4 linked regions of the Homo sapiens genome follow. The protein of the gene in region 4 purifies or fractionates together with the protein of the main gene of each other region. This does not show direct contact. Each region holds a gene or a part of one and is shown on either strand. Other genes may lie near its edges.

The links. The genes of interacting proteins can lie anywhere in the genome.
Region 1: the proteins of RNPS1 (region 4) and UPF3B purify together in Homo sapiens (co-immunoprecipitation; 5 studies listed by BioGRID and IntAct, with this or other methods). This does not show direct contact.
Region 2: the proteins of RNPS1 (region 4) and UPF2 purify together in Homo sapiens (co-immunoprecipitation; 5 studies listed by BioGRID and IntAct, with this or other methods). This does not show direct contact.
Region 3: the proteins of RNPS1 (region 4) and CSNK2A1 purify together in Homo sapiens (affinity purification with mass spectrometry; 4 studies listed by BioGRID and IntAct, with this or other methods). This does not show direct contact.

The regions. Positions count from the first base shown.
Region 1 is NC_000023.11:119,842,964-119,846,463, reverse strand, and holds part of UPF3B (regulator of nonsense transcripts 3B), read left to right. Parts: intron 1-1,167; coding exon 1,168-1,266; intron 1,267-3,162; coding exon 3,163-3,273; intron 3,274-3,500. UniProt on the Homo sapiens protein: Involved in nonsense-mediated decay (NMD) of mRNAs containing premature stop codons by associating with the nuclear exon junction complex (EJC) and serving as link between the EJC core and NMD machinery.
Region 2 is NC_000010.11:11,948,810-11,952,309, reverse strand, and holds part of UPF2 (regulator of nonsense transcripts 2), read left to right. Parts: intron 1-60; coding exon 61-244; intron 245-3,500. UniProt on the Homo sapiens protein: Involved in nonsense-mediated decay (NMD) of mRNAs containing premature stop codons by associating with the nuclear exon junction complex (EJC).
Region 3 is NC_000020.11:498,791-502,290, reverse strand, and holds part of CSNK2A1 (casein kinase II subunit alpha), read left to right. Parts: intron 1-2,356; coding exon 2,357-2,458; intron 2,459-2,985; coding exon 2,986-3,036; intron 3,037-3,500. UniProt on the Homo sapiens protein: Catalytic subunit of a constitutively active serine/threonine-protein kinase complex that phosphorylates a large number of substrates containing acidic residues C-terminal to the phosphorylated serine or threonine.
Region 4 is NC_000016.10:2,252,620-2,255,373, reverse strand, and holds the end of RNPS1 (RNA-binding protein with serine-rich domain 1), read left to right. Parts: intron 1-1,310; coding exon 1,311-1,410; coding exon of another isoform or gene 1,411-1,477; 3' UTR 1,478-2,254; downstream 2,255-2,754. UniProt on the Homo sapiens protein: Part of pre- and post-splicing multiprotein mRNP complexes. Auxiliary component of the splicing-dependent multiprotein exon junction complex (EJC) deposited at splice junction on mRNAs.

The DNA of each region.
Region 1 (3,500 bases), on a different chromosome or scaffold from region 4:
CTCCGCCTCCCAGGTTCAAGTGATTCTCCTGCCTCAGTCTCCCAAGTAGCTGGGATTACAGGCGTGCACTATCACGCCTGGCTAATTTTTGTATTTTTATTTATTTTTATTTTTATGTATTTATTTTTTTGAGACGGAGTCTTACTCTGTCGCCCAGGCTGGAGTGCAGTGGCATGATCTCGGCTCACTGCAATCTCTGCCTCCTGGGTTCAAGTGATTCTCATGCCTCAGCCTCCAGAGTAGCTGGGATTGCAGGCACGTGCCACCACGCCCAGCTAATTTTTGTATTTTTAGTAGAGACAGTGTTTCACCATGTTGGCCAGGCAGGTCTCAAACTTCTGACCTCAGGTGATCCTCTCATCTCGGCCTCCCAAAATGCTGGGATTATAGGCATAAGCCACGGTGCCCAGCCCAACGTGATAATTTTATATATGTATACATTATGAAATGTATACATTATGAAATGTATACATATTGTATACATATATACATTATGAAATGTATACATAATGTATACATATATACATTATGAAATATATACAATCAAGTTAACACATTCATCACCTCACATAACACATCACCTCAAATAGTTACACTTTTAAAAAATAACAGCTTTATTGAGATATAATTCACATGCCTGAAATAGTCACCCTTTTAAAGTATACAGTTCAGTGAATTTTAGTATATTCATAGGCTTATGAGCCTATCACCACAATCTAAATTTAGAACATGTTCATCACCCCTAAGAGAAACCCCACCCATTAGTTGTCACTCCTCATTCTTCTCACCACTTCTACCCCAAACTCCAGGCAGCTACTACTCTACGTTCTGTCTCTATAGATTTGCCTATTTTGGAGATTTCTAACATTTTAAAATGAAAAATAGTTTGTAGGGTCTTTTTCACATTAAAATATCACATTTTATAAGTTGAATTTATATGAATATTTTACTTTCATGCCGTGTTGTTTCACTATGTTATCAGTGTGAATTTGTGGCTCCTTTTGTAGTATGTTGATTATGGTTGTGCCAGTGTGCTTTATGCCTTTGGGAGACCCTCTTCAGATGACTGCCATCAAAAGAGTCATAGAAAGCAATGGGTTGATTCCCTTATATCCACTTTTGACATTTTCTTTGTTATAGCAAGTGTGGTATTTTTTTTCTAAACAGGTCAGGAATATCCCGCTATAGTAGAATTTGCACCTTTTCAAAAAGCTGCAAAAAAGAAGACTAAGAAAAGAGATACCAAAGTCGGGACTATCGATGATGGTACAGTATAGCTCTAATTATATAATGCTATTGCTGTGGGGTTTTTAAAAATAATATCTTTGTGAGAGTTAATTCGACCCCAAAATTTTAAATTAGAAAATATACAAAATAAAGTAAGTGAGAAATGTTATTTGCCGATGGAAGCTTTGCTTAATTGTTAGACTAGAGAGAGTTTCTTGCACAGAATCTCTGCTCTCTTTGGCTAGGGCATTTCATTCTTCAACCATTGAACAATATAATGTTGACTATTGAGTAACAAATCACCATAGGTTTATTGATTAGAAGATAGTGGAAAGGCCAGGCGTGGTGGCTCACGCCTATAATCCCAGTACTTTGGGAGGCCAAGGCGGGCGGATCATCTGAGGTCAGGAGTTTGATACCAGCCTGACCAACATGGAGAAACCCTGTCTCTACTAAAAATATAAAATTAGCCGGGTATGGTGGTGCATGCCTGTAATCCCAGCTATTCGGGAGGCTGAGGCAGGAGAATCTCTTGAACCCAGGAGGCGGAGGTTGCAGTGAGCTGAGATCACACCATTGCACTCCAGCCTGGGCAACAAGAGCGAAACTCCATCTCAAAAAAAAAAGAAAAAGAAAATAGTGGAAAAAAATCAGGTTTCAAAGTTTAACAGGTGCTTCTTGAGGCCTCACCATTTTTATGATTATTTATTTGACTTTTGGTTTCCATTATATTTATAAAGAAGAAGGTTTGAACTGTCATGGGAAAATTTCCATACCCAGGTAACTTTGTATAAAGTAGCTGAAGTTGTCACTCCTATTTTCTGGTCTTTGGATATACAATTAGCTACACACATAGTATTAGGTTGAACAGGAATAGAAGAACTGAGGCCAGGCGCGGTGGCTCACTCCTATAATCCCAGCACTTTGGGAGGCCAAGGCGGGCAGAGTTGCTGAGGTCAGGAGTTCGAGACCAGCCTGGCCAACATGGTGACACCCCATCTCTACTAAAAACACAAAAATTAGCTAGGCATGGTGGCGGGCACCTGTAATCCCAGCTGCTTGGGAAGCTGAGGCAGAAGAATCACTTGAACCCGGGAGGCGGAGGTTGCAGTGAGCTGAGACCGCACCATTGCACTCCAGCCTGGACAACAAAAGCAAAACTCCGTCTCAAAAAAAAAGAAAGAAAGAAAGAAATACAAGAACTGAAAAACCAAAATAATTGCCATTTAAGGTACACTGGCTCCAGATTTTGAGACCTCTGTAATGTTATGTTAGATAGCTGTTACACAACTCTTTATGTTGGATAAGGACTAGGACCATATTTTATATCAGATTGTTACTTTAGAATCATCTAGTTTAATTTCCATCATTTGTTACTATTACAGGTATTTTATAAAGAAAACACGGTAAGGACTCAATAACACATAGCTGTGATACTGGTTTTATTACAGATTTAGATCTGGAAGACTTGATCAAGTGACACATAGAAACAAGCAATATAATGGCTTAGATGTGTCACCCTTTCTGATGTTAGAGGTCTAGGAGAGAACTCCAGGAATTCCCATCACCTCAAGTGCCACATCTAGGACTTCTCTCTAATTTATCTTTTTGGAACACCTAACTTAGTTTAGTAGGACAGTGACTTTTAAAAGCAAACTATGTAATACCCCTAGTGGTTCTGTTATAATGCATGGCGTCTCATTTTTCCTGACCCCATGTTATACCAGATTCCTATAGTGAGTATCAGTGATAGGAGTCCTGAGAGCAAGTGACCAATTAAGCTCTAAATAGTCTACCTTGTGGGTATGGTTTGGTTTTTTTTAATCTTCCACGAAGTAAAAAATTATCTTCTTTGATAAATCAGTATTGTAGATAATGTCTTCTTTTTTTGTTTAAAGTCTATTATATTTTCTGTTTCCTCAAATGATTATTTAGATCCAGAATATAGAAAGTTTTTGGAAAGTTATGCCACAGATAATGAGAAAATGACATCTACTCCAGAGACACTGCTAGAGGAAATAGAAGCAAAAAATAGAGAATTAATAGGTAAGTGGGCAAAAAGAATCAGGGCAACAGTCTTTTCATCACAGTACCTAAGTCTCCTACCTCCATCAGTTGCTAGCTGTGTGACTTCAGGGAAGTTACTAGTTTCTCTGAGACTGTTACTGTAAATTGCAGATGGTAATACCTGCCTCACAGCATTATGAGAATCCATTAAAGTGGGAAAAATTCTTTGACCTATTTAGTTTCACACAAATGTAATATAAATACAA
Region 2 (3,500 bases), on a different chromosome or scaffold from region 4:
ATTTTAAAATATTTTGTTACTAATTTCTTATAGCTAAATTTATTTTTCATTTGTTATCAGCGTTATGTTTGGTGGAAGAAAAGTTTGGAGGTTTGGACAAAAGACCATCCATTTCCTATTGATATAGATTACATGATCAGTGATACACTAGAACTGCTAAGACCAAAGATCAAACTCTGTAATTCTCTGGAAGAATCCATCAGGCAGGTACAAGACTTGGAACGAGAATTCTTAATAAAACTAGGTAAGCAATTGATTGCAGACAGAAAATGAAGGTGATATTTGGCAGATTATTTCTGGAATTTGCTTTATAATGTTACCAGTCAGAGCTTACATTGTATCTTTTCTATTTTCGGTGTTGAGTGTTACGTAGTAGTGTTAGGTAATGCCTGTGTGGTGTGCTTGATTTCACTAAGTAATTTCAAACCGGAGGACAACAGTTAAGCAGGACTTGCAGGACAGGACTTGAAGCAGGTGACAGTGATGGGGGAAAAAAAACCCACAATCCTGTCTACCTCTCTTACTTTTAGAATTTTTGGTTGCTAATATAAAATCTATTTTTTATTAAAGCATTTCTTATTTTTGCGTATATATTTTCAACAGGCATTATTTCCTAGAAAGTGCAAGCAAAGAAACTGTAGAAGGGAGTACCTGTCAGAAGTTTGGAACTCTACCCTACAGGATTTCAGAGCTTACCCACTGGCAGAGTTGCTTCTGTCTCTAAGGACTAGAGAAAATCTAGAGATAATTAGAAGGTTCTCTATATACTTTAGTATCCTGAGGTTGTTTTGGGGAGAAGAGTTAACTCTTGAACAGCTTCCACTAGAGCTGCAGGAACCTATATGTCTTTAGAAATAACCAGTACAAAGTATAGCCATACCAATCTGGTTTATATGCTGATAGTTCTTAGCATGTTTTATTGTAGTCATTTTAAAGTGACACGTTTTGGCCAGGTGTGGTGGTTCACACTTGTAATCCCAGCACTTTGGGAGGCCGAGGCAGGCAGATCACCTGAGGTCAGGAGTTTGAGACCAGCCTGGCCAACATGGCAAAACCCCATCTCTACTAAAAATACAAAAATTATCCAGGAATGTTGGCGCACACCTGTAATCCCAGCTACTCAGGAGGCTGAGGCAGGAGAATCGCTTGAACCCGGGAGACGGAGGTTGGAGTGAGCCAAGATCACGCCATTGCACTACAGCCTGGGTAACAAGAGCGAAACTCCATCTCAAAAAAATAAAGTAAATAAATAAAAAGTGACCCGTTTTCAGACTATTAAGCTAGTGTTTGATTTCCCACTAGAACTTGGTACATTCATGTCTGTCATTAAGGGATCTTTACTTTCGCCAGTTATGCAAATTATATAAATTTACGACATCGCATATCTGAAGAACCACTTTTCATGGTAAAGGTTTTACAAGTGCTGCTACTGATTGTGCAAGTATTAACTTTTCCTACAACTTAACCCGTAAAGGCATATATGATTCTTTTTGTTCTTTGAACCTTTTTCCAAGTTACCTACTTTCTTTTCCTTTTGAAATTTCTAATTGAATACATGATCTCATATTGAGCAGAGTATTTATGAACTTATTTCACTTGCTTTGGATCCTTGGAAAATTGTTAAGTCTTAGCCTTGTTTCCCAAAAACCTGCATGAATGGTATTCTCTGTATAGTGGACATGAGTAAATATTAGTGTGACACCTAGTTTAGTGACAGAAAAGAGAACAGTTGTGCTTTGTCCTTTGTAGATCAAAAGGCTAAATTAAAGGACTGCAGGCTTCTTGTGAGGACTTTGTCCTTGTTTAGAATATGGAGGTAAAAATAGATCGCTGTTTGTGAATGAAACTCTAAAGATGGTAGCGGCCGCAATCAGTGCACTCCCAAGTCTCCATTTGCTTCCTGGTTGAGGAAGAAGACGTATGCAGAAAAATCAATATTAAATCCGTTTCCTACTGATAAACCAAAAGATAATACAGTATTGTGCCTTTGGTAGTTTTTTGTTTTCAGACACCTGAAAATTCATTGTCTCATGTTAGTTTTATAGTATCCCAATGTTAACATAATAGTTAATTGGAAAACACTAAAACCATTTTTATCATATTTTAAAAATAACTTTTAATAGTATTAAAAGTAATGTGTTCATGACAGTAATTTTTAAAAAACCAAGAAAGCAATACCAATATTCCATACAGAAAGATAATCGTGTTAATATTTTAATACATATTTTTCTACTCTTTTTAAATTTTTTTTGTGTTTGTGATTTTCTAACCAATTGGTTCTACTTAATACATTATGAAATTTTTTCTTGACATTACACATATTCTCTTAAAGCTTTATTTTTTGTTTTGTAATTGGCTGTATTCATTTGTATCTATGTGCCATAATTTACTTAATACAGCTGTTTCACTCTTAGGTTGATTCTAGTTTTATACCACTGTAAATAATATTTTTAGTGTACCTGTGATTTTCTCAGGATAGATAGGATTACTGGCTCAGATTTTTATTTTAATTTAAGAACAAAACTAAAATGGTAATTGGCAATGTTATTTAATTCTGGTTTGGAAGTGTTCAAAGCAGTATTCATGAAATGAGAGGGTTAAATCACATCATCGCTAAAGTTTCTTCCTGCTTGAATCCTCTAAGATTCTATGCATGAACAGGTATTTATTTAACACCTACTGTGTATTTATTAATATATGGGCTGTCTTAAGTTTTGAACATTTAAGACAAGTTCTTTGTCCTCAGGGGTCTTATAATCTGATGTAATATTTATGAGATCGTTAGGAAAAAATAACAACATGCTATATCATCAAATGTAAGATGCTGTAAGTTCTCCACATGCTTTAGGAGCAAATAGGAGAAAAAGTAATAGATTGAAGTACTCATTGACAGTTCATGCAGGAAGTAAAACTGAAACTGAACATGAAGAGTGGATGGGATTTGAAAGTGCATATTGAAGGGTATTCTCTATTGAGAAGGATATTGGGCAAGCAAGATTTCAAAGCAGTGTGTTCTGTGACAGGAGACGTCTAAGGCAACTTCAGGGGAGGGCTTAGGAGAGAGGAGTGGGTAGCAGATCAGTGGGATCAGATGAGACCACATTGTGTGCATATCAAAAGTAGAGAGGGTGGATTGGAATTCCAACAGGAAGAAGAATTGACTGGGCAGTGAAATGTGGGATGGACACAGGAGGTGAAAGCAAATTCAGGCCAGGGAGTTCCATTAGGCTTAGGAGGAGAATGCTGTTATTGAAGAAAAAAAATTAGTCTGTATGGTGACAAAGCTGCTATGGCGTTTTGCCCCATTCCCCCGTCTTAATTTGCATACATTCAAATTGATAGCCACATATGATTTCTCCATTAAAGTGGCACGATTTTTTTCATGTCTTTTGAGTTTTTGGAGACTCTTTAAATCTCACTTGGTAAAGAGTGTGGCCAACGCTGTATCTTACATATGGCTGAGACTGTACCTCATCTGTTACTGTTTTCTACCTTTGTCC
Region 3 (3,500 bases), on a different chromosome or scaffold from region 4:
TGAATAGTTGAAGCAGGAAGAGAAGACTTATATTATCTTGTTTCTTAGGTAGATATTGTATTGGGTAAGAGGTCGTGGGTTGAATTCAATGGACTACATGGAAGTCATTAGTAAAATAGCTTCTGTTTATTGGGTACCACTTTGCATTGGACCTGTTCTAACTGTGGTATGTAAATCACTAACAGGCGAGTATAGTCCCTTTCAGCAGTGAGAAACATTTAAATGCTTTTCTGAACACTGCACAACCACAAAGCCAGGTTTTGAGAACTGTCAATGTTTCCAAAATCTGCTTGCTTTCTGCTATCATGTGCTTGAGGCTTAAGACAAAGTTAAAAGAATTTATAGTATTATTTGGTAGTTTCTGGACCTGGATCATCAGCCTGGAAAGTATCTAAAAATAAATCCCCCGTTTCCCTCTCAAGATTTTGATTTAGTGAATCTTGGTGGGTTCTGTGAGTCTGTATATTAAAAAAATCCAGGTGATTGTTGGTCATCAAACTTTAGTAACCACCAATCTTGTTAATGAAGAGATGAGATGTACTTAACTTCTAAGAGTTATATGCAGTGCATCTAGTCTGAGGTGACCAACACCCTAGGAAAAGACCTGCACAGTCCAGTACAGCAGGCACGCAGGCCACATGAGGCTGTTAAGCACTTGAAATATGGCTGGGCTGAATTGAGATATGCTGTAAGAGTAAAATACATTAGATTTCAAGGGTTTAATACAAAAAAAGGTAAAATAGATTAATAATTTTTATATTGATTTATATGTTAAGATTTTAGATTAATAAAGTACATTAATTTTGTCCTTTTTAAAATTTTCTTGATGTGGCTACTAACACATTTAAAATTACACATGTGGTTTGTATTATATTTCCTTTGGGCCAGCACTGTTTTAGACTATTCAGGAGAAGGCTTTATAATATAAGCCCAGGCACAGTGGCTCATGCCTATAATCCCAGCACTTTGGAAGGCCAAGGCAGGCGGATCATGAGGTCAGGAGTTCGAGACGATCCTGACCAACATGATGAAACCCTGTCTCTACTAAAAATACAAAAATTAGCTGGGCATGGTGGCTGGCGCCTGTAATCCCAGCTACTCGGGAGGCTGAGGCAGGAGAATTGCTTGAACCCGGGAGGCGGAAGTTGCAGTGAGCTGAGATCATGCTACTACACTCCAGCCTGGGCGACAGAGCAAGACTCTGTCTCAAAAAAAAAAAAAGGCTTTATAAAGGAGGTGCAGTGGGACCAAGGCCCTCCTCAGAAAAAAATGAAAAGGATTCCATACTAGAACAGATGTGGAAAGAATGGGTAAGGACAAAGGAATGTTTAAGATATGCTCTGCAGAATACTCTTTAGAATGGAGGGGTTCATTTATAAGAGTATTGGCACTTTGGGAGGCCGAGGCAGGCAGATCACGAGGTCAGGAGATCGAGACCATCCTGGCTAACACGGTGAAACCCCGTCTCTACTAAAAATACAAAAATTAGCCTGGCCTGGTGGCGGGTGCCTGTAGTCCCAGCTACTCGGGAGGCTGAGGCAAGAGAATGGCGTGAACCCAGGAGGCGGAGGTTGCAGTGAGCCAAGATTGCACCACTGCACTCCAGCCTGGGTGACAGAGCAAGACTCTGTCTCAAAAAAAAAAAAAAAAAAAAAAGAGCATTGGTGATCAGGCTAGACAGTTATTATTATGTTATGTTTCAGCCATATTCCGAAATCTTTCGAATACCTCATTTGATTCTTGCAACAATCTTATGAGATGGGTACTCTTGTTACTCATTTTACACTTAATGAAAGGCTTAGAGAGGTTATGTAGTTTGCCATTAACAGCCAGCAGGTAGTAAAGGTAGGTTTCACATTGGGCATTGTGACTCCAAGACTCACCCTTTACCCTCAGGGTTGTGCTACACAAAGATGTTTTGGCCATCCTTGTTGTTGGCCCTAATTAGAGGAAGAAATGGAAAGGGCCCATGTTTCATCCTAATTGATAAAAAGTTTGATATACTTTAGTATTACTAACGATTTAAATTGCTACTTTGTAAGGTTTTAAGACATTAACATGTTTAACATGTTTTAAAACATTAACATCAAGACTGATGATTGAAATGCTAATTCTGCAGAAGTGTCTGGTCTTTGGAATAGAAATCTTTTTTTCTTTCAATTCAACATTTGTAAGTACCTGCAGAATACCTGGCACAGTGCTAGGAGAAGGATTCAGAGACGAATGTGACACATTTTCTTCCTTCAAGGTGTGCTCATAAGTAAGCCATTTATCATTTATGTATTACACTACGTGTTGAAATACTCTGAAAAAATTTTTTTTTTTTTTTTTTGCTGATGTACTTTTCCCCTTTCAGCCAGTAAAAAAGAAGAAAATTAAGCGTGAAATAAAGATTTTGGAGAATTTGAGAGGAGGTCCCAACATCATCACACTGGCAGACATTGTAAAAGACCCTGTGGTGAGTATAGTAGGTGTTAGCAAGGCCCGCCAGAGCTGAGATGGTGTTTGACCTGGAGCACAACTGGCCTCTTTTTGTTCCCTCCCCCAACCCTCATCATTAAGTCCTGCTTTGAAAGTGCTTAATCAGATATACCATTTAACTAGCTTGGGTCTTTCTTTCAAAGAGACCTCCACCCACAGACTATTTCTTATTCTTCTAGGCTAAGAGACTGATAGCACTGGAAACTGAAATGTGTTAATCCATTTTGCAAACTCAGGTCCGATGCCGATGGGCGATGGGCGCATTGTCGGGCTGCCTAGAGCCTGGTGAGACTTCAGCTCCATGTCTTCTGTTTGAAATCCATCCCAAAAATGACCTAAGTGCGGTGATGATCAGAGCGGGGAGGGCTTGTAGCAATAGAGGGTTTCTTACTACTGAGGCGAGGACTGCCAAATTTCACCACGCAGCATCCGCAAACATTGTCCCCATTAAAGCTGTCAGGGCTATTGCTAATGTGTGTTTTTGTTTTTGTTCTTTTCCCCTAGTCACGAACCCCCGCCTTGGTTTTTGAACACGTAAACAACACAGACTTCAAGGTATAATATATAACCAACTGTTTCGGGCTAGTGGGTTTTTAGACCACATAGCCTTTGGGGATGATGCTGTTAGAAGAGCTTGCTTCGCATTTGTTTTTAAAAAGCTTTTCATCCTTACAGTGCAAATTTTAAGATAGAAGAACTCCTATATAAGCAGTGCCCACTTTCTGCATCTTGATATTTTGCCCATTTGTTTAATGTTCTTTTTAATGACCAACACATTGACTTCTCACTACTTAGTTGACAGTTTCTGCTGATGTCCAACCTAATGAAGGCAGTAACACACGTTCACTTAGGATCTGGCCATATGGCAATTCGCTTTAAACAATAGTGTTCAGGAAGAAATATATTGTATGTATAAAAGTAGGGACTGCTTATTTCTTAGGATTCCTCATAAACTGTGGGCTATAGATCTTAAAAGGCAGGGATCGAGGAAGGATAATGTCAAATTCTGCCATAACACA
Region 4 (2,754 bases):
TTTCTGAGTCTGGGCAGTGGCGTGGTGTGGCCTTCCTAGGAGACCACTAGACCTGTGAGCCCAGGTGCAGGCCCACCTTTTTCTGAGCTAACAAGAAGAGCTAGGAGAGGGAGAAGTTGGGGGTCAGAAGAGTTGTGGGGCGGGGGTGGTAATCCCTCGGCAGAGGCCACAGTTTGGTCTTCCGTTGCCGGTGGTGAGCTGTGCTTTCAGCCTTTGGGGAAGAGGAGGAAAGCCTGGGCTTCTGCCTTGGGTCTCACAAGCACCCGTTCCCAAGAGCTCAGGGCAGGCCCATCAGGTGGGACCTGTCCCAACTTCTAGTATTAAAAAGTAAAACTTCTGCCAGGCATGGTGGCTCAGGCCTGTAATCACTTTGGGAGGCTGAGGCGGGCAGATCACGAGGTTAGGAGATCGAGACCACCCTGGCTAATACAGTGAAACCTTGTCTCTACTAAAAATACAAAAAAATTAGCCGGGCGTGGTGGTGGGTGCCTGTAGTCCCAGCTACTCGGGAGGCTGAGGCAGGAGAATGGCGTGAACCCGGGAGGTGGAGCTTGCAGTGAGCCAAGATCATGCCACTGCACTCCAGCCTGGGCAACAGAGTGAGACTCCATCTCAAAAAAAAAAAAAAAAAAAGGTAAAACTTTGCCACGTGTGGTAGCAATCGCCTGTAATCCCAGCACTTTGGGAGGCTGAGGTGGGTGGATCACAAGGTCAGGAGGTCGAGACCATCCTGGCCAACATGGTGAAACCCCATCCGTACAAAAAATATAAAAATTAGGCCTAGCATGGTGGCTCACGCCTGTAATCCCAGCACTTTGGGAGGCCGAGGTGGGCGGAACACGAGGTCAGGAGATCGAGACCATCCTGGCTAACACGGTGAAACCCCGTCACTACTAAAAAAAACAAAACAAAATTAGCTGTGCGTGGTGGCGTGTGCCTGTAGTCCCAGTTACTCGGGAGGCTGAGGCAGGAGAATGGCATGAACCTGGGAGGCCGAGATTGCGCCTCTGCACTCAGCCTGGGCAACAGAGTGAGACCCCATCTCAAAATAAATATATACACACACAAAAATTAGCTGGGCGTGGTGGCGCGCGCCTGTAGTCCCAGTTGCATGGGAGGCTGAGGCAGGAGAATCGCTTGAACCCTGGAGGCAGAGGTTGCAGTGAGCTGAGATCGTGCCACTGCACTCTGGCCTGGAGACAGAGTGATATTCCATCTCAAAAAGTAAAACTATGGGGAATTGCCCAGAAAGAAGCTAGCTTGCCCCTACAGCCTGAGCTACTCTGATGTGGTTTCTCCTCTTCCCGCAGGTCCCGCTCCCCGAGGCGCAGGTCCCCCGTGCGCCGGAGATCACGGTCCCCGGGCCGCCGCCGCCACAGGAGCCGCTCCAGCTCCAACTCCTCCCGATAAACAGGCCACTGAAGCTCTCGCCCCTGTAACTTATACCCCACCCAGCTCAGTTTTGTCACTTTTCTAGCCAAAGGAAGACCAGTAGGAAAGCAAACCCTTGACTCTGGCAGGATTTGCAGGCAGCAGGCAGCACCCCTCTGCCAGCCGGGCCCCGGCTGCAGAAGTGCTGTTGGTTTGGATGCTGTGTGCCTGTCAAGATTCCCTCCGGTTTTCTGGCTAGAAAGCTCATCCGTTTCCGGTTTCTAAGAGTCAGTTCAGTGGCAGAGCCACCAGGGAAAAGTGAGGCTCTTGGGGGTGGTTTGACCCTGCTTACCTGGGAGCACACTTTTCCCTTCCCCGATGACCTGGGATGGTGGCCAGGCCGTGCCCTTGCTGTTGCTGGGCAGTGTCCTTTTGGAAAGGGAGCTGCCCCAGGCTTTAGTGCAGCTGCCAACCCTGTTAGGCCTGGCCTCTCGAGGCCTCTTCTGACCTCAAGGGTCACACCCCCTCAAAGATCCTCTCACCCATGGTAGTTGCTGCTCGTGGTTCTGTCTGTCCGTGCACCGATGCACACACCGCACCCCACCACTGTACTCTGAAATTGGCGAGTGAGTGGAGAGCCAGCTCTGCGGAGTCATCACGCAGCCATGGTTGTGCCTGCCGTTCATGGTGGTCTTTCAGGTTATCTTGGCAACATGTACATTGCTTTTATTTTTTTTCTTTTTTGCTTTCATTGTACAGTCAGTACTATAAAATTTCTCTTTTGAGTTTTATACCTTTGTAGCATTTTAGATGACATTGTGTTTGTACTTTGTTGTGTAGAGTGGAAGAATTGTGTTGAATAAACCCAAGATCGGAATGCAAATCTAGTTCTGGGTTCACTGCCTTCTCACTTGTCCCCTCGCCCCTAGTAACTTTCTGTTCCTCACCATCCGCAGTGGCACCTCCGATGCTTTCAGCCAGGAGAACCTAGGGTTTGTGTGCTGTGGGGACCAGGTTGCTCCTAGGGTGGACAAATAGAAGGAGATGGTTTTATCGCCACCTTGGAATGTGTGTGTGTTTTCAGACAGACTCTCGCTCTGTCACCCAGGCTGGAGTATGTACCATGGTGCGATCATAGCTCATTACAGCCTCCAACTCCTTCTTCAGTGTCCAGAGTAGCAGGGGCTAATTTTTTTTTAATTTTTTAATTTTTTTTTTGAGACAGTCTCTGTTGCCTGGGTTGGAGTGCAGTGGCGCAATATTGGCTCACTACAACCTCTGCCTCCTGGGTTCAAGTGATTTTCCTGCCTCAGCCTCCTGAGTAGCTGGAATTACAGGCACCTGCCACCATGCCCAGCTAATTTTTTGTATTTCTAGTAGAGA